2 linked regions of the Homo sapiens genome follow. The protein of the gene in region 1 interacts with the protein of each later gene in a pairwise test. Each region holds a gene or a part of one and is shown on either strand. Other genes may lie near its edges.

Evidence for each region.
Region 2: the proteins of SLC6A20 (region 1) and NBPF19 interact in a two-hybrid assay, tested with the Homo sapiens proteins (one large-scale study listed by BioGRID).

Annotation. Positions count from the first base shown.
Region 1 is NC_000003.12:45,793,563-45,798,117, forward strand, and holds the start of SLC6A20 (sodium- and chloride-dependent transporter XTRP3), read right to left. Parts: upstream 2,975-4,555; 5' UTR 2,858-2,974; coding exon 2,737-2,857; intron 2,482-2,736; exon of another isoform or gene 2,337-2,481; intron 1-2,336. UniProt on the Homo sapiens protein: Mediates the Na(+)- and Cl(-)-dependent uptake of imino acids such as L-proline, N-methyl-L-proline and pipecolate as well as N-methylated amino acids.
Region 2 is NC_000001.11:149,502,541-149,506,354, reverse strand, and holds part of NBPF19 (NBPF family member NBPF19), read right to left. Parts: intron 3,178-3,814; coding exon 3,126-3,177; intron 2,522-3,125; coding exon 2,349-2,521; intron 1,640-2,348; coding exon 1,588-1,639; intron 938-1,587; coding exon 765-937; intron 51-764; coding exon 1-50.

The sequences.
Region 1 (4,555 bases):
TAACATTCCTCATGCCGGGCCGGGCCTGGCCTGGGGAGCAGGAAGGAAACAAGCCTCTCCAGTCACGGGCAGAGTCCCATGGAGAGGGGCACAGATCCCTAATCCGTCTTATTCTGGGAAGTATTTTGGCACAGCCTGGCTCTGTGGTTTATAAACAAATTCTTTGTTTGCTGGGGGTATTTGCAGCTCTGCTTACAAGGAAGTTATACACCCCTCTGCAGCCTTTCATAATGTGGCTGATTTTTACCTTCCGGTAAGGGATGGGTTGTAAACTGCCTGGGTTTGGGGCAACACAAATCACTTCTTAAAGGTGACTTTACTGTGCAGTGAAAGGCTTGGGAAAGCCTCTAGCATCCTCTAGCGTCATTTATTCTGTGGCTTTTCCTAATACCTTGCTCATTCACTCAACAAATATTTATTGGATGGCTCCTGTGACTCCATCACATCACAGAGGTTGGGCCGGGCGGAGACAGAGAAACTGAAGAACAATGTGCAGTTCTTCTGACCAAGTGCTTATGTGGCCTGTGAAGTAGTGAGGAGAGTCAGAGAGCACAACGGAGAGAAAGCAATATTTGGTCCCACCTGGAGGGAATGGTGGGAGTTCTCCCAGCAACAACAGCCTCTCAGGTGGAGGAAATATCTTGTGTGAAGGGTTGAGGCACAGAAGGAGGTGCTCATGGAAGTGTTTGGAAGGCAGGAGGAGGTTTGAAGCTGTGTGGCAGGAAATGAGGTGGAAATATTGGACAAGTGGTCAAGTTAGGTGGTCAAGTGCCTACGGTGCCAAGTGGACTGTTCGGTCTTTATTCTGTAGACATGTGGCTGACAGGGTGCCATCCACCAGACCCACACCCTCCTTTTGTCTGTGCACCCACTAATCCATGCATACACCCAGCCACCAATCCATGCTCCGTCCGGCTTCCACTCATCTATCTATCCACCCATCCAGCCGAAGCATCCTCTGCACCAGGCACAGGATTACTTCTTGTTTCTTTTTCTTGGAACCTGAGGGTCTTGAGGTTTCCCTAGCAACCCCTTGATACATATTCAACTCCAGAACTATCAGCCCCACATGCATCCCTCTGCAGACTATTCAGGTGATGGTGGTATTATAAACAAGGAATTAAGTAGTCATGTGACAGTGAGGCTCACCTGGACTGATGACTGGGAAACATGTACCCAGGATAAAGGTATCATGGGTAGGTCTACTGAGCACAGAATGATGTGGAAATCTCATTCTGACAAATAATTCTTTTTAAGAGTCAGTTATAGAGCTGTTAGAGCACATGGTAATGCTGTTAGAGCATATGGCAACATATGCCCTTCACATCATTATGGTGTATTTATGCACTTCAAATTTTAAAAAGGAATCAGGAAATTAAGAATGCACTGTTTTAAAAACTCTATGAATTAACCTTTTGTTGATTTGGGGTAAGGGGAGGAGGGAGCAGTGTTTAGCTCTTGGTCTTCTCAAATGGGTTCATTTTCGTAAATACTTTGGTCTAACATCTTCCATGATCTTTTATGGTGAAAAAAACATGCTAATTATAGAAGTCCTAATACACAAACACACACATACACACACAAAAACACACACACACGACAAGGTAAACAAAAATCACCCAGAAATTTTGTTAACAATTTGATGTCTTTTCCCCATTCTTTTCTCTGCATATTTTTAAGTAATTGTTTTAAAATGTCAAATCCATTTTATATAGCTTTGAATCTGATTTCTCCTCCCTCCACTTAATACAGGATACGAGAAAATACAATTTTTTTTTTGAAAATGCCGCCTTAAAGGCTGCGAAGAGCAACCTTGAATGGATGCTCTATAATTTACTGAACCAATCCCCTTTATTTGAGGGCTTAGGAAGTTGCCAATGTTTTGCTCTTATTAAATGATGGTGACCATCCTTCTACCTCTGTCAGAACTCTGACAATTTCCTTTAGATACAATTCTAGAAACGAGACAACCGAGAAAAAAAGTGTTTTAGATGCTGAGACTTAAATCCCTCTTGCCACATTGCCTTCCAAAAAGGTACTTGGGCTTCACGAGGTTATAGACATGTGTAGAAGGTGTTCCCAGCTTTCCGCAACGCTAGGGGAGTGCGGTAAGAGCGCGTGGCTGGCTGGCTGTCCCCGGAGCGTGCATGATGCTTCGGAGGAAACATTTATTTAAGAAAAACAAAACAAAACAGAATGATTTGCATTTCCTGCTTTCTGTCGTTCCAAACTCAAACCAATCTCCTTATAAAAAATTTAAAGAAATGGCTCAAGATTCTCTTAACCTGAGTTTCAAACCGTTGATTTAAGTTTCGGATCTGAAAGTTGTATAACGAGTTTCTGTTGAATAAGACAATTTCCTACTCACTTTTTACACCTAAACGTAAGGTTTACTCACTAAGACGTCAGACCATTGACACTTCTCTCGAAGAAGGAGACCGCGTCCCCTGCGCTCTCAGAGCCGCAGCCTGGCCAACAAGGGTGAGGGTTGGGGGCTTGGCCGCCCCCGGGATGGGGCGAGGGGTTCCCGAGGGCTTGGGAGGGCGGCTTGGGAGAGAGCTCCGGCTCCGGAACGAGGTGTCCTGGGAACACTCCCGGGTCTGTAACTTCGGACAAATCACGCTCGCTTTCCCGGCCTCAGTGTGCCGTTCTGTAACTTGGGTCTAACCCCGGCTCGCACACACGGCGGGGACGCGCACAGAGTTGGGCTGGGGCCGGGGCGCGGTGGGCACTCACCTCCGCCGTACATCTGGCACAGGTACGGGAATCGCCACACGTTGCCCAGGCCCACGGCGTACGAGATGCAGGCGAACACGAACTGTAGCGAGTTGGCCCACAGCGGCCGCGCTTTCTCCATGGCCCCGGCCTCGGCGCGCTCGGCTCCGGCTCGGGGGTCCGGCACGGCAGTCTCAGTGCGCGGTCGCCAGGCGCGCCGTCCCACCCCGGCTCGGCTTGGGGGTGGCCCCGCGCCTCCGCCGCCGACGCAGCTAGCTGGTTTTTAAATTGCTAATCTCATTAACGGCGCGCCCGTCCGAGAGGCGAGGCTGGTAAATGGATGACGGCGAGCCCCACCCCGCCCGATCGTCGCGGCCGGGAAGGCACCCGAGATTGCAGAGGACAGGGCGGAGTCCCCTGGGGTCCTCCGGCTCGGCGGGGCCTTTCTTCAGGCTGCGGAACTCCTCGAAGTGGGCGCCTTCCCTCGGCCACTCACCTGTCATTTATCGAGCGCCTACTGTGTGCCAGGCGTTGTCTGGGGACACGGCTGTGAACCACTTCCCAGCTCCGTCTTGGAGCTGACATTCTGGTAGAGGGAAACACTTGAATTGGACTGCATGAAATGCCCCATTTTCAACCATTTTTTAATTTATAGAAAGGACAATGTCATATGGTTCAACCTAGCCCACGTATAAGACTGAGAGACGCGAGGAAGACACCTAAGGCAAAGTAAAGGGGTAAGCAGTTGCGGGGGGTGGCCAGGGATGGTTAGGGAGGGCTTCTCAGAGGAGAGAACATAACATTTGCCAGGGGCCAGAAAGAAGTGAGGGACCTTCCCGGCAGTCCCGTCCCCTCCGTCCACCCAACAGCTTGGCCCTGCGTGCCTACTGGGTCCGGGGACGGAATCAGGTTTTGAACTGCTGTGGGGGACTCTACTGCTCAGGCCAGCCTAGGGGCCAGAAATTTTGATTCATTAGGCCAGGGTAGGGAACTAAGAAACCTCGTATTTCTGCCAGTCTTACAACGTGATTTGCTTGAGGGTGGTCACTAGATAAGACAGAGCTTGGTGCTTTGCAGTAATGTGGAATCTGGGTTTGTATACCAACTCTGCTACTGACTTAGCTGTGTGACCTTGGACAAGGCACTTGACTTCTCTGAGTCTCTGTGTACTCCTCTGTAATGCTAACAGATATCTTCCCCTCTCTCCTGCCTGGCAAGGAAGAGCTCATGTGAGGATTAATTGGGAACTTAGCTTACTACCTGGCACAGAGTAAGTTCTCAATAAAGAGGCCATTACCAAGTCTCCAGCAGGCTGAATGAATGAATGGGTAACATATTAATACTAATGCCACGCTTTGAACAGTGCCTAATACATTGTAACAGATAAGAAAATGCTAAATAATAATAATAAAATTTAAAAGAGATGAAAAGCAGAGTTGCTAGTGAAAATCTTACTTGAAGCCAAAATGAAATCAGTGCTCTAGGACAGCTCCTTGTTGGGCTTTCCCTGGAGTTCCTGCCTGTCTGGTCCCAGAGGAGAAGGGTGAGTAGGGTGAGGGAGGTGGAGGCTTCCTCAGACATATTACCTGTCCTGGAACTTCCTACCTCGAAAAAGCAAAGCAGAAAAAAAAGGCAGCACAGCAGGAGAAACTACTTTAATTTTTTTAAACTTCAGATTCTAGATAAATGTTTTTTCCTACCCATTGCCTCCTCCCCAAAGGAACCTACCATCCTGGTGTCTAACCCCATGGGTTAGTTTTGACCTTGATGAAAATGGAATTAAATGGGATGTACTTTTTCTGTGCCTGGCTTCATTTGCTTTCCGTTGTTTGTGGGGTTC
Region 2 (3,814 bases), on another chromosome or scaffold:
CTTTGATCTTCTTCCCCTTCTTTTCTTCCCCTTCCCCTTCTTTTCAATTTCTGCAATAAATTCAGACATGGACAGACACATTAAGCTGATTCCCCTACACACATAACAATCCACTGTCTAATCCTCACACAGGGACCTCAGGCTCCTCAGCATAAGAATAGGACACTGTGAGAGATATATTTCAGGAGGCCTGAAGGCTGGTCATGATAGAAATTCCTCGGTTTTTCTCCCAGAAACTGTGGGTAAAATGTCCCTATTCTAGTAGATCGTTATCCCAATATCATTTGTCCCAAGTTTGTGCAAACAGTTATGCCATATTTTTCCAATCAATTTAAAGCAAATACCCTCAAATGATTTCTAGGAGAAAAACTGCAATATTTAGCCCTGTCTCATCAAATACTCAGATTGTTCATGGTTGTGAGGACTTTAGACACTGAAATTAGAGTGAAAAAGGAAATCTACAAACCCTTGAGTCAAAATCATAGTTCTCTGAATTTGTCACATCTGCCCAGGTCCAATGTCATGAGAATAGGATCAGGGCGCCACAGGTATGGCCTGAGACTAGGAAGAGAGTCTTGCTCACTGACCCATCCCTTGTCTGGGCTTCCAGGTAGAACTAGAGTTTCATTCAACCTACATGTGCCTATAGGTCCTCACTGCGGCAACGACATCTCTCAGCTCAGTAATGGCCACTTGGAGCAGGAATATGATCTTTATATGGAAGACTCAGTGGATGCTTATCACCTTCATAGAAAGGTACTCACCTCCCACGTCAAGAGAAAAGCCAACATGTTTTTCCTCCAATGCATAAAAGGAACTTCCATAGGGCTGGCAGGAGTCAGGCTGTTCAAGACAACTGGAAGGAGTTGAATAACATCTATCCAGTGAGTCCTGCAAGACTTCAGGCTCTACTACCTCCACCAGCTCCCTGCTGAGCCTGGAAAAGGAGGAAAAAGTAAAGAATAAGCCAGGGGAAATCACACACAACAGAGCCCCAACTAGGTTTCATGGGTAGCATAGGGAAGTGGTTAAGAAAGTAAAAGGATAGATCCATTAATGAGGTAACAAATTATTGCCTTCATGTTGGGACAGAACAGGGCCAAATGGAAAAGAATGAAAGAGAAAGACAGATGGACACACACACACACACACACACACGCACACACACACACACACACACACAGAGAGAGAGAGAGAGAACGAGCTCAGTGAATTGTCCAGGTGACACACTGATGAGGGAGTAACAGGACACTCTGAGTTAGTGCCCTCAGGACACACAGCATACAGTGATCATGAAAAGACTGTGCTCAATAATTTTCCATAAAATGTGCTCAAGTTTCCATGCAGTCGCCATGAGAATACAGTTTTTGAAGTCTGGTCCACCTACAGTAGGTTAGTAAATGATAAGGGGAGGAAGAAATGGAAACCTAAATATCTACTGCAATGAAAACCAACAGCAATGTTAGTAGGAATAATTCAGGCTTGCTTGAAAAGATGTAATCGATAATGTCAGCCCGCTCTGTTTTCCCTGAACCAGGAGTCTCCAGATGTCAACACAGAAGTAGCTGTTCACAATTGCTCAGTTACCTGGGGCATGGTGGGTCTTGGTCTTCTTCCTCTTCTTGGTCCTTTTTAATTCCTGCAATACATTCAGACAGGGACAGACAAAATAAGCCAATTCACCTACACCCATAACAGTCCACTGTCTAATCCCCACACAGGGATCTCAGGCTCCTCAGCATGAGAACAGGACAATGTGAGAGATATACTTCAGGAGGCCTGAAAGCTGGTCATGATATTCTTTGGTTTGCATCTCAGAACCAAGGGTGAAATATCCCCATTCTGGTAGATCGTTATCCCAAAATCACTTATCCCAAGTTTGTGCAAACAGTTATGCCTTATTGTTCCCATCAGTTCAAAGAAAATGCCCCAGATGATTTCTAGGAGGAAAACTGCAGTATTCAGCCCTGTCTCATCAAATGCCCAGCTCGTTCATGGATGCAAGAATTTTAGACACTGAAATTAGAATGAAGGAGGAAATCTACAAACCCTTGAGTCCAAATCATAGTTCTGTGAATTTTTTGCATCTGCCTGGGTCCAATGTGCTGAGAGCGGGCTCAGGTTGCCACAGGCATGGCTGGAGACTAGGAATAGAGCCTTGCTCACTGACCCATTTCATGTCTAGGCTTCCAACTGAGACTACAGTTTCATTACAACCTATATGCGCCCACAGGTCCTGCCTGCGGCAATGACATCTCTCGGGTCAGTAAGGGCCACTTGGAACAGGAATATCACCCCTATCTGGAAGACCAGGTGGAGGCTTATCACCTTCATAGTAAGGTACTCACTGTCCACGTCAAGAGCCAAGCCAAGGTACTGTTCCTCCAATGAGTAAACAGCACTGCTGTAGGGCTGGCCTAAGTCAGGCAGTTCAAGATAACCTGAAGGAATCGAATAACATCTATCCAGTGAGTCCTGCAAGACTTCAGGCTCTTTCTCATCCAGCAGCTCCCTGCTGAGCCTGGAAAAGTAGGAAAAAGTAAAGAATAAGCCAGGGGGAATCAGAAACCACACAGCCCCAGCTAGATTTCATGGCTAACATAAGGAACTGTTTAAAAAGAAAAAGGACAGATCCATTAATGAGGTAATGAATTATTGCCTTTATGTTGGGATAGACCAGGGCCAGGTAGAGAAGAATGAAAGAGAAAGACAGGGAGAGGGAGAGAGAGAGAGAGAGAGAGAGGAGAAAGTGAGCTCAGCGAGTTGGCCGGGTGACACACTGATGAAGGGGTCAAAGGACACTCTGAGTTAGTGCCCTCGGGACACACAGCGAACAGTGATCATGAAAAGAGTGGGCTCAATAATTTTCCATAAACTTGCTCAAGATTCCATGCAGTTGCCATACAGCCTTTGAGGTATGGTCAACCTATAGTAAGTTAGTAAATGATAAGGGGAGGAAGAAATGGAAACCTAAACATCTACTGCAATGAAAACCAACAGCCATGTCAGTAGGAGTAATTCAACCTTCGTTGAAAACATGAAATTGAACACACTCTTGTTTTCCCTGGACCTGGCATCTCCAGGTGTCAACACAGAATTAAGCATCCATAATTGCTCAAAGTTACCTGGGGCATGATGGGTCTTGGTCTTCTTCCACTTCTTGGTACTTTTCAATTTCTGCAATAAGTTCAGACATGGACAGATATATGAAGCTGGTTCTCCTACACACATAACAATCCACTGTCTAATCCTCACACAGAGACTTCAGGCTCCTCAGCATGAGAATAGGACACTGTGAGAGATATTCTTCAGGAGGCCTGAAGGCTGATCACCATAGAGATTCCTTGGTTTTTGTCCCAGAAACTGTGGGTAAAATTCCCTATTCTGGTAGATCGTTATCCCAATATCATTTGTCCCAAGTTTGTGCAAATGGTTATGCCATATTTTTCCAATCGATTTAAAGCAAATACCCCCAAATGGTTGCTAGGAGAAAAACTGCACTATTCAGCCCTGTCTCATCAAATACTCAGATTGTTCATGGTAGCGAGGATTTTAGACGCTGAAATTAGAGTGAAGGATGAAATCTACAAGATCTACAAAATTGAGACAAAATCAGAGTTGCGTGAATTTGTCACATCTGCCCAGGTCCAGTGTCATGAGAGTAGGATTAGGGCGCCACAGGCATGGCCTGAGACTAGGAAGAGAGCCTTGCTCACTGACCCATCCCTTGTCTGGGCTGCCAAGTGGAACTAGAGTTTCATTCAACCTACATGTGCCTATAGGTCCTCCCTGTGGCAATGACATCTCTCAGCTC